Linked DNA regions of Homo sapiens. The protein of the gene in region 4 purifies or fractionates together with the protein of the main gene of each other region. This does not show direct contact. Each region holds a gene or a part of one and is shown on either strand. Other genes may lie near its edges.

Region 1 (3,500 bases), on a different chromosome or scaffold from region 4:
GGGCCAGGTATGGTGGCTCCTGCCTGTAATCCTCCCAGCACTTTGGGAGGCCGAGGTGGGTGGGTCGCTTGAACCCAGGAGCAACATGGCAAACCCAGTCTCTACAAAAAAATACAAAAATTGCCAGGTGTGGTGGCATGCTGTAGTCCCAGCTACTAGGGAGGCTGAGGTGGAAGAATCACTTGAGCCTAGGAGGCAGAGGTTGTAGTGAGCCGAGATCATACCACTGCACTCCAGCCTGGGCAATAGTGTGAGACCCTGTCTCAAAAAAAAAAAAAAAAGTTTTTGGCTTCTAAAAAAGTAAAGCACCACTCACTGATGAAAAGCTCTAATACACATGGGTTTATGCAGCACCTACCCACTCCCAACCAAAGAGGTGAATACTGGGAAATGAGAGAGCTTGCAGGGAGCCCAGCTGCCTTTTGGCCTGGCTCTTGCCTTTACACAAGGCAATCCCCAGACTACATAGAAATTCATCTCTGTTTACTCTGAGCTGTAGGTTTGTAAGCAGGAAATGCATAAACCTACCATCCTCAAGAACAAGGGCATCTGAGAGGGAGCTGTCTTCACTGGCAATGTTTCCATCTGAGAAGACAAAAAGCAATAGCCTATGAGTTCAGCACATTCCTTCAGCAAAGCCCTATCTGTAAAAATAGCATGTCTACTACCACCTCATACCTTTCTCTTCCTAACCAGAAACAACCCACCAGATACAATAAAAATGCTGTTGGGTGTTTCTTTTGTCAGTCCCCGTGGTGGGTCATTGGCTCAGCCTCCCCACCCCGACACTGCCATGTGCCCATGTGCCCTAGCCTTTGTGTGTTTGTGCCCCGGTTTCATAGAATACTGCAATGCAGAGTGGCTTCATACCGAATATAAAGGCTGCCCCAGCCTGATTAAACCACATCATTGTCCCTGCACAAACCCAGGGCGTGTACCAGCAAAACCAAAGGACGCAAACTGCTTTTGATTCTACAAATGCGAAACCAGGGTAGGCACTTTGCTTTGCTTCTGTGGCAATAAATGGCTTCTCAATAAACTTTGTAAGTCATTAGTAGAGAAAACAAGCGTGCTAAATACAGGCTCCATCTCTCCAAAGCTTATTTTTATAGATGCCATTCAATTAACCGGGAGAACACACCCAAAAGGGAGATGGTAAAATAATCCTCCCTGTTTCACTGCTGGGGAAACTGAGGGGTAGGAAGGGAAGAGTGGTTTGTCCGAGGTGGTTTTGCTCTCCAGCAATGTGAGCAAAGGTCCCAAGTCTTCAGATTCCAAGTTTGGTGTTTTATCTCTAAAATAATACGCTAAGGAACTAGCAAGAACCTTAATTACTCCTCTAGTTCAAGTGGGTCCTTGGATGTTTCTATAGGAAACATGTTTCTGTTGGGAACCCCTAAGTGCCTTGGAGGGGGCAGAGGGTCTCAAATGGAGTGTCAGAAAGAGGTTGGCTGAGGGAGCTTTACTAGGAGGTAGGGGAAAAGTTGTGTGGTCTTGGCCAAGGACAACAGGATGAGATAGGGAAAGATGGTCATTCCAAATTTCCTAGAGCAAAAGAATTTTAAAAAATTCTCTTTTTAACTAGAAATTCACTTTATTTATGTTGCATGATGGACTATGAGCAACCAGGAGCTCTGACTTCGGCATCTTGGAATCTTCAGCACATCACTGCTACGCTAGGATGCTCACGAGTTTAGGCTGCAAATCTGCATCTATCTATATTTATCTATCTATGTAATTGTGGTGAAATATATATAACATCACATTTACCATGTTAACATTTTTTTTTTTTTCAGAGATGAGTCTTGCTATATTGCCCAGACTGGCACGCATGGTTACTCACAGGTATAATCATAGTGGACTACAGTCTCAAACCTCTGGCTCAAGTAATCCTTCTGCCTCAGCCTCCTGAGTAGCTGGGACTATAGGTGCATGCCAACATGCCCAGCTTAACTATTTTTTTGTTTGTTTGTTTGAGATAGAGTTTCGCTCTTGTTGCCCAGGCTGGAGTGCAATGTCGCAATCTCAGCTCACTGCAACCTCTGCCTCCCAGGTTCAAGCGATTCTCCTGCCTCAGCCTCCTGAATAGCTAGGATTACAGGCATGCGCCACCACGCCTGGCTAATTTTTGTATTTTTAGTAGAAACACTTTGGTCAAGCTGGTCTTGAACTCCCGACCTCAGGTGATCCGCCCGCCTCAGCCTCCCAAAGTGCTGGGATTACAGGTGTGAGCCACCTCACCCAGCCCCAGCTTAACTATTTTTAAGTGTACAGTTCATTGGCATCAAGCACATTCCCATTGTTGCGTAACCGTCACCACCATCCATCTTCTGTTTGAATAATATTTTCATGTTTCCAGACTGAAACTCGGTATCTATCAAGCAGTAACTCCTCATTCCCCTGTCCCCTAAGCCCCCTATAGTAACCACTATTCTACTTTCTGTCTTTCTAGAGCAAAGGTATTTTAAACACACATACCTTTATGTGTGTTTAGGAGGAAAGAATGCTTGATATATATTTTCAAGAATTCACTGACTTAGACAAGAAGGATTCTAACAGTTTAGGGGACTTGATGCTTTGTGGGTGGATTTTGGGGGATTTCCTTCTAGAATTTACCAAAGGTCATCACCCAAATTCCTAACCCATGACTGGAGCTCAGGGTTCCAGATAATCAGATGGTCCAGTCTCCCCAAGCTTCAGCTCTTGGGATAGGAGGCCCCTGGCAGCATAGGGGTCAGTGGGTTGGCGGGGGCCGCTCGAAGACAGGGATCACTGCTGCTGTGTACCCCAGCCCCACCTGTCCTTCCAGACTTGAGTAGGGGTGGTCAGGTCCCTGAGAGTGTCAGAGCCTGGTCTAGCCCAGTCAACTCAGCTCAGTTCACAGTAAGGGCTGAGAAGAATGCTAGCTCCTGGCTGCAGGTTCTCCCAGGGAGGAAACCAATAGTGATACCAACAGTTTGATTCGTACAATCCCTTCATCTGTGTCTGAGTCCACTTGGTTTCTCTCATGTGGGATCAGGCCTTACTCGCTTCATTTTATGGATGGACAAATGAAGGCAGCGGACAGTTAGGCAGCTGCTCAGGTCGTGCAGGGACCACTCGTGGGACCTGGCGTCTGGTTGCCGGGGCCCGGGCGTGGGAGTGGGGTGGGGGCAGCCCGGTTGGCACTGACCGTCTATGATCAGCGAAGCCCTCTGGGTGGGTTTCTTCCCAGACTTGATGCGGTTCTCATTGATTGCATTTTCAATCTCCTGCAGTTTCTTCAGTGCATTCAGATACGAGGTTTTCCTTTGTTTCTTCAGTTTTTTGCTGACGTTGGGGTCACTGGCTAGGCGGCGGGCGGCCTCCGTAATCTGGGACTGAATGGCAAACTCTCGTTCCAGGCGTTCCAGCTCAGCTTCCTGTGGGAGGGAAAGCACCGGTTTGGGTTACTGGGGATGCTGAGCAGGGAGACCCTCATCCTTCCCTCCCCTGTCCCAAGGCAAGTCCAGTTCCATGGG
Region 2 (3,500 bases), on a different chromosome or scaffold from region 4:
CAAAATTCCCTTTCTCTTTGTCTTGTAAATAGCTCCACCTCACCACCACCACTAGGCATTGTTCTCAGCAATTAATACCTGTTTAATCAGTTACTCCTTGTAACTATTTCATGCTGTGAAGTAGGTACTACAGTTGTTAATAAAGAATAATGTTGTACTCTGAATGCTATTCCTAGGAAATAACCATAAAACATTTCTGAAAAAAAATTCTGCACACTATCAGCATGAACCAGATGAAGATGCAACACCACAACCTTGAGTGAGCAAAGCGCCCTAACTCAGCATATGTGTGTGTCTTATCCTTCCTTTTGGCTTATCACAAAAAAAAAAAAAAAAAAAAAAAGCTTTAGGACTACGACAGGCCCATGTGGCAGAGAACTACATTAACATGCAGATGCCCGAGATCGAGCCTGGAGCTAAGGAGTCAGTTCCCTCTGCTGTGGGGCCCAGGTATGGGTAGGAGTCTGCTCATGACTCAAATCATAGCCTGGCTGACCCAGTGGACTAGTTTCTAAAAACATCCACTCCTTCCTGTTTCAACAATCATACACCAGAGCCTGCTACCACGTTTGAATTTATTTCAATGATATGCAGGTCAGAACCTTATCTGTTTATATTTCAATGCCAAAATATTTTAAAAATGACTTTTTAATGATGTGTAAAATTGTTCCAACTTTATAAATAACCTCCATTTGTTTGCTTTCAGATTTTGTACATTTGTTTTTTATCTTAATAAACCAAATCTATTCACAGAACTAGGAAGATGCTTATTAATACCAGATTGCATGGTCCATATATCAAGTTTAGCAAATAAGCATTATCCACTTATTTGCTAAAAGCAATCTTTTTCCCTCCAGGTAATTTAGATGATTCTCAAAGATGACATATCATTTTGCAATCTGATTGCAAATTCTATACTGCCACATGATCTATAATAATTATCTCAAAAAAAAAAAATCCCAGTAAAACAAGTGAAGGCTGACAGAGCAAGTAACATTATTCAGCTGAAGCTAATCAATCAGAACGTTATACTTACCCCACTTTCTGCTCCGGAGGGCTGGAGACAGGAGGGATGGAGAGGCTGTGCCTAGACTCAGTGGGTGATGGTAGGGGCATTCTGTCAGGACAAGGACTGGGGGAAGCAATGTGTGATCTGCCCAGACCTAAGGTGCAGAAAGAACCAAGGCAAGAATATTACCAATTGCACGGAGAAGATACCAACGTGGTTTCTAAAGAGCTCTACTAGTTTGAAAATAAACTGTTATCCTCACAAATAGCCAATTATGATGCATAAGATCCAGAAAACTAATGATTCAAGCACCTAAATTAAATTGCAGTGGCAATAATAAAATGCAGGAAACCAACAGGCAGCAAAGGCAAGGCAACTATCACTCTCTAAACAGCTCTGTGTGCCAAACACTAGACCTTGCCACTCTGGCCCGCTGACCCTCACGGCAACCCTGTGTCGTGGGCAGGGTGGCTACCCAACTCCAGAGCACCCCGCAACCCTTTGTGCGGGTGGCTTACCTTCCAGATACATTTCACTTTCGAGGCTTCTTTTTGCTTTTGGAAGGGGTGTGGAAGAGAGGCGTCTGGAGGAAGTGCCCCCGCGGAGCCTCGAGGCTGCACTGCCTGTCAGTGCTTCCACGACGTCATTCCTTTCTTCAAGTGTGCCCACTTGAGGCTGCTCAGAGACAACTCTGTCCTCTCCAAAAATATGTCTTTCCGGGGAACTGGAAGTAATGTTTTTGAAGGCTTCCAGCAAGTGCAGAGATGGTGGGCTCTTTGCTGCTAGTGGGCTTTTGGCAGAGTTTTTAATGACTCTCCGATGGTAACTTCTGAAAGCCTTTTCCAAGCGTTCGGCCTCTTGCTGAAGCTCTTTGACCCTTGCCTTAGTATTGGCTACAAACTCAAGGTCAGAATCAGGGGAACTACCCTCCACCCATGCAGTTGGATAATTTGTGATCCTTGATGCAACCATACGTGCTAGAACGTTTTCCTGTTTAAAAGGATTGTTCAAGAAATCCCCACTTATCTCACCATTGCAAGGCACCACATTGCCATTTATTAATCCATTGACAGAACGATCGATCACAGACTGCTTTGGATTGCAGTACACTTCATTCTCTAGGGCTGCAGGGTACAAAAAGCCAATTTCAGAAGTAAGTGGACAAGGCAGAGAAGAAAATATACTTGAGAATATTATTTTTTTGAAAAATGGAAGAGAGTAATAAGGACAAACTTGCACTATACAGTTTCTGAAGCCATGGTAACGATAACCACTAACATTTACTGAGAGCTTATTGTACCAGCTACAGCTTTGTATGTCTTTTGTAACATGATATAATTTCAGAATCCATTATGCACAATTTTGAAAGCCACAAGGCTCTGAGAACTGAAAATTTATTCATAATTTATTTGGTGGCAAAGCCCAACCAGACTTGAACTCATTTGGTTGAAAAGTTTGACCTGAACTGATGTAAACCCATTTATAATCTTTATTTATCCCAGCATGAATATTCATACAGTTGACTGCAAAATAATTAATGTGCTTTACTATAGGATGCTGTTCAGAACTCCCAGGGCTATTGCGAAATCCACAGCATATGGCCCGAGTTTCATATAAGGAAGTGAGGACCTGCATTCACAACAACACTGTGGTCAAGAAACTCTCACTGCTCCCATTTTACAGATGGGGGGACTAAAGCTTACTGAGGCTGGGTCACACGGTTAGCAAGTCTAAGAGCTACTGGGCTTTCCTAATGCAAAGCCAGTGCACCTGCCCCTCTCTCCTGCAATGCCTCCCCGTGATGCTACAAGAAAGAAGCTTGCCCTCGGCAACACATGCATGCGAAAGAGTTCTATCCTCATTCAACTATTTTTTATTGATAGGAGACTGCTATGATTTCAGCTGTGAGAAGTTTCACAAACAGAACTGAAAGAAAATGAGGAACAGAAAAAAGCAGAAACGAGTAGAGATAAAAATAAAACAAGTGCTGGTAGAAGAGAGCAAGGAGCTGATGAGGAAACAATGCAGGTGGGAACAAGGAAGGCTCAGACCCAGTTGAACTGGTAACACATACGTACTTTCTTTGAACTTGAAAGCAACTGAAGAATAAAGTATCTGAACTTTAATATCCTTCTTACGAAGTAGGAAGGGGCAGAGATGCATCCACAGTGAAGACACAATAATAAAATGATACCAATAACCATTTCCTGAGTGTCTTTTATGTCCCAGGCACTGGACTGAAACCCATTTCATCTTTTTCATCATGGCTCAGTAGGTATTATTATCCCCATTACAAATGAGGAGACTGAGGCCCAAGGAAGTTAAAGTAACATGCCCAAGGTCAAACAACTTCAAAACGGGTCCAAAAGAAGAACAGTTCTGATTCTGAAGGCAATATTCTTTTTGCTAAACCACCCTGCTTGTCCTGTATATTTATATATCTATCAAGGAATCCGTAAAACTACTGAATTGGTGTTAACATTGGGGTAAC
Region 3 (3,500 bases), on a different chromosome or scaffold from region 4:
AAAGCTCTGTTAATCAAAGAAACACTTGCATGGGGGGCGGTTACAAGGAAGACTTTTTTCTGTGTGTATATCACCTTCCCCAAAATAGAGCTTATTGCCCTTATTTTTAAATTTTACATCTTTTCTATTTGTATGCAAATCCTTTTCTCTTGACTATCACCTGCAAAGCACATGGATCTCCAATCAAAATGTCAAACAAACTTTTTGCAGTATTTTTTCTCTCCCTGTTCACCCTAACACCCAAACTGGACTTTCCTCCTGCCATCCTTGCTGTGGGAAGAGCAGCTCTGCCACAGAGGCTTGGAAAGGACAGACTGGTGTCGCTGATGAGCACAAGGTCATCCCCAGGCATCCTTCCTTTTCCAACTGCCATTTACCTCTGCGTCAACTGCACTTCCTCTCATCTAGCCTAGGTATCAACAGCTGCATCCCTGCCCCATGCTGGAGCCAAGAGGAGGGCTGTGCTCTTCCTAAGGTGGAAAGAAATGCTTGTGGAGTCTGTTAAGAACAAGATATAACTCCCTTGATATTCACCAAACTAAACTAATTTTGTAATTCTATTTCAGTCAACATTTTTAGATTAAATAACGATTTGTATCTGTCTTGGGCTAAAAGAATTTAAATACTTTTAGGTCTTGTTGTAAAATGTCCAGCTGGAACATAACAAATAAGACAAAACAAATGGGAAAAATAAGATAAATTATATAATCCAGGACAAGGCATTATATTAATAGGCACAAATAAATATATCTCTCCATATAGCTTAGATTTAATTTAGAAATAAAAGTATAGTGGTAGCACACACTGGAACCATAACCCATGGAAGCTATAGGCATGATTAAATAATAATAACCGGTTGACACAGCACTTTATTAGCATCACATTTCATAAACAAGATATCTATATGAATATATTTACCACATAAGAAAATGTACTGTTACGTTACCATAATATAAATTAAATCTCTTAAAAACATTTCCCAAGTGCTTCCATGATATTCCAGTTCAGAATTTAAAGGAAGCCATGGAATGACTTTATCATTGATATTTTTTAAACTCCTTTATTTCTCAAGATATGTATTAAGCTATCATGTTTCACCTGCAATTATTATTGATGCATATCATATTTGCATTTTAACATTAATTTTCAGTTTCACTAGGCAATATGAAGCTTTTGATCAACACTGGTGGATGTCCAAATCAGCAAGGATGCAGAAAAATACTGATGAGAATTTGAACCCAAATGTATTATTGATCGGATACACTTACTCTATTCCTGTAAACCCCTCTTTAATTAATGTGAAAGTCTATATAGAGTTTTTCATCATTAAATATTTTGTTGCATCACTTCGTATATAACCTACACAAATGCTTTAGTAATTCTTATACAATGCATATCTTAACATAGCAGATTCCTCCCAGAAAAAGATATTAGAAGAATAAACATCCAGGTATAATCAAAACAGGTTTTAACTACTCCAAAAGAGTCTCCTTTAATATCTGAATTATCTGACATTCTCTTTAACATGCAAAATTCTAAGGAAACTGATGACTTAAGGTTAGGAGGAAAGAATTTTCAGTAAAGAATTTCAAAGGAACACTGCAGCGTGAAGTATAAAGTGGTTAAGTGCTCTACTTTAATAAAGAAGTTATTTCGGGGAGGAGGATTCAACTTTTACTGCATCTATCTGGAGTCCAGATTCTGGACAAAGAAGTGTTTCATTACGGTAATTATCCAGATAGTTCAGACAAATCTTTTATGAGGCAGGGAGAGTGTAAGGTTGGCATGGTTTCCTGCTTGGATTATTTAGATGATCTGTCTTTGTTGATAAAATTATTTGAAGAAATTGTGCAAGCCTACACTTGACTTCTTTTAGAAAATCATCTTTGTATGGGCCTCTAATCTACTTGGGTCAACCTGGTTATGAAATTTCAAATAGGATATCATTAACAAAGAATATTTCAAATCAATCTGGAAATTAGTGATTCAAAGGGGAAAAATCAGATGGTCTGATTTAAGTAGCCCCTGAATCATTAAATTGTCCCCTTCACTACATTCAAGAATTTGTTTCTGCTAATTAGCAACTTTTTCTTCAGAGATATTGGAGATATTTCTGCTCCCTATCAGGTTAAGAAAACCTTTGATATTTATTTTGAAGAACTCACTTGACATAAGTTAATACCTAAATTAACTAAGATTGCGTTATCAGGTTTTTAAATTTCCTGTCATAATATACTTCTCAAATCATTTAAGATTTCATTTAAGATTCTCCCATCCCATCAAAAATTCCACACACTTTTCACCTGCAAAATGAACACAGAACATTTTCTGAGACATGCCTAAAATATTAATTTCTACTTGTTTAAAAAGTAACAACTTATCAGATAGGTAAATAAGACAGAGTGTGAAATAATCTTAAGAAAATACACTTTTTTCTTTTTGCAGAAAATTGAACTCTCTAAATGTCCTTTGAGAATGCACAGGCAATAAGTCTGAGAAATTCCTTATGTATATGGTTCCTTTCCAAGTTACACAGGTACTTAATTAAAATCCTATAATGATACATCATGCACAATCTATTTTCATATTATAACATCAGTCACATTTTATAATTTCTTTTGTTAATCTGAAACCTAAAACTTCTTATATTAACACTGCAAATTCAAGACAATCCCTAAAATGATATAAGACATTCATGAAAAGAGGCCTGTTTGAGTTTTAAACAAATAAAGAGGAAGTCTGGCAACTTACAGAATAAGCCAGCTTAGGTTTTAAGATAGCATGTGCTGCTTATAGAGGAATGATGCTAGGAAATGAATAAAGTGAGAACAAAGATGCATGTTATGTATGCATGACTTTTTTTTCCCACAAGGTGGTGATTAAACTAAATAGAATTCTGCATAATGGACACATAAAATATCAATAAGTGCCAAGCACAGATAACCCCTATTAAAAATAAAGCAAATGAACATAGGCATAGATGACATTTTAATTACCAAAGAACTTCAAAAGCATCCAAGGAAAGTATTGGGTGTGTGTGTGTGTGTTTGGGAGGTGGGGGGACGTTAATGTTGAAGTCTACAGAATAAATGACACATACGATCTCATTTTCATGGAAACAATAACTACCCAAACACAAAGCCAATGAGCAAAAACCATTTGCCAACCAACCTATTCCTGTGCAACTCAGTCTACAGAAGTAGTCTGTTTAAAGATAATTTTAAAAGGTCAAGTTTTAAGAAGCCAGATATAGTGCTTACATTGAATTCCCAACAACTTTCCTCACACATCAAGCCACAGTCCTTAGCTTCACCTATTTTACTATTACATATACATGTCCATGTTTTAACCCATGGACAAGTTAATGTGAATACTCTCGTTTTCCTCCCTCAACACACACAAAAAATTTCATTTTGGAAATACTCAGAAGTTCTTGCAAGAAATTCCCTGTAGAACTGACTTCTCACATCTTGCATCAGAATAGAAAAGCACAGTTACCT
Region 4 (3,500 bases):
CATGGGTTTGAATCAGGACTCCTCATAAACTATGAGACCTCTGGCCAGCTACCTCTCATGGAGCTCAGTGTCCTCTGCTGTAAACTGGGGACGGGATGACTTAATAACGTAAAGTACTTAGTACTGTGTCCAATCCACAGTCCATTCTGACCGAGAGGCCTGGGCAAGGACCCAGGAGGTGCAGGGCTGCCTATGGCAGAAGATGCCTGGAACTGGGAGACTGTTACTCTGCCTGGGCCTCAGTTTCTCCAACTGTAACACCGGAGAGTGGAGTTCTTTGTCCCCTTATCTCCTGTGCCTCTTCCACCCTAGCTCCCCCTCCCACAGCCCTCAGGGTGGGTGGTTCCTCTCCTAGCTTTTCTCAAGGCCTGCCAAGTGCCAGGCGCCTGACAGCTTCTCAGAAAACAATATGAAGCCAGCATCATCAGCCCACTTTGCAGATGAGGAAGCTGAGGCTCATGTCCAAGGTCACACAGACATAAGGGCAGAGCTGGGATTTGACCTCCCATCCCTGTGAGTCTGAACTCACTGTGCCTTCACCCTGAGCTTCTTGGGGACTCTGCCCCTGCCCCATCTGGATGGCCAGAGCAAGGTTGGCTCAACCCTCCTGTCCCCTGACTACCACTGTGCACCTCTCCACAGCCTTTCCCAGCTGCGCATCCTCATGGTCTGTGTACCCTTGAGGTGACCTCTCTTTGGGTCACACCTGTGTAGACTTAATTTTGCAAATTGGGCCACTTAAAAGCATTACATGTCCTCCTCACTTAATGGGCCCAAACTGGAGAATCCTTCTGCAAAGTGCTGACCTTTGACTATCTGAAGGTGCTTAAAGCTGAATCCTTGCTTTACATATGGGGAAAGTGAGGCCCAGACAGAAGGCAAGAGGATCCCCACATCCACGCAGCTGCCTGTGTGTTTCTTTTTGACCTGGGAAGCTTCAGGATTGATTAGCCACTCCAACTACACCAGGCACTTGGCTGAATACCTTACACTTCTGCACTAATCCTATGAACTGGGGCTCAGAGAGGTCAAGCCACTTTCCTAAAGTCACACAACCAGAAAGTGGGGTAGCCGGGACTGGAGGTGGTTCTGAGTCCAGCGCTCTGTTCTTTCCCTTAGTCTGTGTCTGCCTCTCTGGGTTGCCAAAGAGGATAATAAGGGCTTCCTAAACCTCCCGGGCAGATTTTGAAGCTAAATTGAGATAATAGACCCCAAAGCCTGGTGAGAAGAAACTTACAAGTTCCATACAAATGCAGTGCATTGTTATTAACAAAAGGCTCGAATTGGGAAAAACAGCTAAGGAGGGAGATGCTGAAGAGGGCTCACTGGGAGCTAGAGGCAATAATGTGGCACCTGGGAGAGCGGCAGGACCAGTGCTGGGAGGTAATTAACTCATTCCCTGCCAGACAAGGTGTGCCCGCATAGCACCACGAGGACCCCAAATGAAATGAGTCACCAATGCTCAAATGCTGTTTAAAATGTTTCAGGCATTTTACTAAATGCTGGGGCTTTTTTCATTATTAATTATTTTTAATAGTGACTTAGGCCACAGGCCCTACTTTAGCTGGGGAGCCACGCAGGAGGCAGGTATTATATACCTGGCACAGGCTCTGCCCGTAACATTTAAAACAGTTACTCCCTGTGGCAAGTATTATTATCTCCACTCTCCTGGTAGAGGGGATAGTGGCTTCAACTCCAGTGAGTCATTGCCCAAGGTCACCTAGCAGGCAAACGGGGAAGATGGGAGTAGACCTGAGCTCCAACCAGCTCTCAAGCTCTCATGCTACGGAGTGGCTCCTCTCTGATGTACTTTCTCCTTTTGGGACCAGGCAAGAGGTGGGTTAAGGGTGAGGCAGTTCTCAAACACCGAGGGGCACCAGAATCATTCCAGATCCAGGCTCCACCCCAGCCTTGGAGGCAGGAGGTATACTCGGTGCTGAGCTGGGACCGTGGTGTTCGCGCCCCCTCTGCCCCTCCCTGCTGGGCTCTGACCATGGAGGGGATTGAAGCTCAGGGGGCTCTGGGGAATCTTCAGTCCTTGAAGTGAACTTGTCCATTCATTTTTCCTAAGCCAGGCTCTGAATCTCTCCTTCCTGTTCTTATGAATACCCCCTGGCTCCCTGTGGCCCATAGGAAACAGGCAAACTCCTGAGGCTGTCATTGGAAGCCCTGGACCCTCTGGCCCCACCCTGTCACCCACTACTGTGCATATATACCACACCTCGGCCACACTGGACACCTCTCCTTTCCCAATCAGGACACGCCTCCGTTCTGGCCACTTCTTCTTTTTGAAATGTCCTTTCCCGGCTTCTCCTCTGGGAGCACTCCCATGTAACCTTCAAGGCCCAGTTCAGAAGTCACCTCCTCTGTGAAGACTTCCAGGATGGCACCCTTCCCTGCCCCCAGAGCAATGACAGCCGCAGTGACAGCAGATCTGCGTCTCCAGAGCTCCATCCCCACAGCCAGCACCGCATGAATCATGCAGCCTTGTGATTCACATGTGTACAGTCCTCCCACCAGACCCTGAACTTGGTCAGGGCAGCATATGTGGTTGATTCATCCCTGGGGCCCCTGTGCTGGGCGCAGAGCCTGGCATGGTGTGGCAGGGGTGCAGGCTATTTGAGGAAGCGACCGGAGGTTGGTAGGGCCCAGCTCAAGTAGGGCCTTGTGGAAGACCTCAGTTTCCTCCTCTCTAAAGGACAGAGGGCTTAGAGCAGAGTCTGAGGGTTTTCAGGCCTGACATGCTGAGCGTCTAAGAATCTCTATTCTAAGAAATAGACCTGGGCTGTGTGAGGTACCCTTTTTGGAAGATGTGAAAGATGGCTGCCTAGAGTCCCCCAAAGGCTTAAATCTGGGTGGACCTCCTGGGTGGTCTATCTCGGACATCCTTCTCAAGATGGGGGCCTCTTTTGGGCAGGCGGGTTTCAGGACCAATGCGCTTTGTGACGGTGCCTCTCAAGACAGTCACAGCCTGGGTGGGCCATATCAGCAGAGTCCCCACTGGGGGCTGTCTATCTCAGAGGAGCCCCTCCCGGGCCATCCATCTAAGGACAGGTCCCTCCTGGATTCCCCGGGGCCAGGCTGGGTGGGCTGCGCCTCTCTCACCCGCAGCTGGTCCTCGGGCAGGTCGCTACCATTGTTGATGCCGCGGTTCATGGACACAAAGCGCTCAAAAGGCGGCCTGTCCCGGACGTTGGGATTGTGGAGGCTGGTGTTGAGCATGATGATGGAGAAGGACAACACGTAGCAGGTGTCTGCGGAGGGGACAGCGGTCACAGTTCTGGCCCTGGCCACTCTCCCTGCCTCTGTCCCGGCCCCTTCCAGGGCCCAGAACTGCCATTGCAAGGCCCCGAAGGTCCACCTTGTCCTCCTGGCTTGGGCTTTGAGGCCCAGCCTCCTCTCCCTTCCCACTCTTGCTGGTCCCCACCCCCTCTTAAACTAACCTCAGCCTCTTTTTCTGAGCCCCTTCCTACCTCCGCGCGTACGCTCCTGCTGGATCC

Evidence for each region. Proteins that work in one complex are often made in the same cells at the same time.
Region 1: the proteins of CYTH4 (region 4) and FRMD4A purify together in Homo sapiens (affinity purification with mass spectrometry; one large-scale study listed by BioGRID and IntAct). This does not show direct contact.
Region 2: the proteins of CYTH4 (region 4) and OFD1 purify together in Homo sapiens (affinity purification with mass spectrometry; one large-scale study listed by BioGRID and IntAct). This does not show direct contact.
Region 3: the proteins of CYTH4 (region 4) and PROX1 purify together in Homo sapiens (affinity purification with mass spectrometry; one large-scale study listed by BioGRID and IntAct). This does not show direct contact.

What each region holds. Positions count from the first base shown.
Region 1 is NC_000010.11:13,662,925-13,666,424, forward strand, and holds part of FRMD4A (FERM domain-containing protein 4A), read right to left. Parts: intron 3,402-3,500; coding exon 3,173-3,401; intron 586-3,172; coding exon 529-585; intron 1-528. UniProt on the Homo sapiens protein: Scaffolding protein that regulates epithelial cell polarity by connecting ARF6 activation with the PAR3 complex. Plays a redundant role with FRMD4B in epithelial polarization. May regulate MAPT secretion by activating ARF6-signaling.
Region 2 is NC_000023.11:13,758,748-13,762,247, reverse strand, and holds part of OFD1 (centriole and centriolar satellite protein OFD1), read right to left. Parts: intron 2,134-3,500; coding exon 1,528-2,133; intron 1,164-1,527; coding exon 1,037-1,163; intron 1-1,036. UniProt on the Homo sapiens protein: Component of the centrioles controlling mother and daughter centrioles length. Recruits to the centriole IFT88 and centriole distal appendage-specific proteins including CEP164. Involved in the biogenesis of the cilium, a centriole-associated function.
Region 3 is NC_000001.11:213,990,973-213,994,472, reverse strand, and holds part of PROX1 (prospero homeobox protein 1), read right to left. Parts: exon of another isoform or gene 3,499-3,500; intron 1-3,498. UniProt on the Homo sapiens protein: Transcription factor involved in developmental processes such as cell fate determination, gene transcriptional regulation and progenitor cell regulation in a number of organs.
Region 4 is NC_000022.11:37,303,008-37,306,507, reverse strand, and holds part of CYTH4 (cytohesin-4), read right to left. Parts: intron 3,255-3,500; coding exon 3,106-3,254; intron 1-3,105. UniProt on the Homo sapiens protein: Promotes guanine-nucleotide exchange on ARF1 and ARF5. Promotes the activation of ARF factors through replacement of GDP with GTP.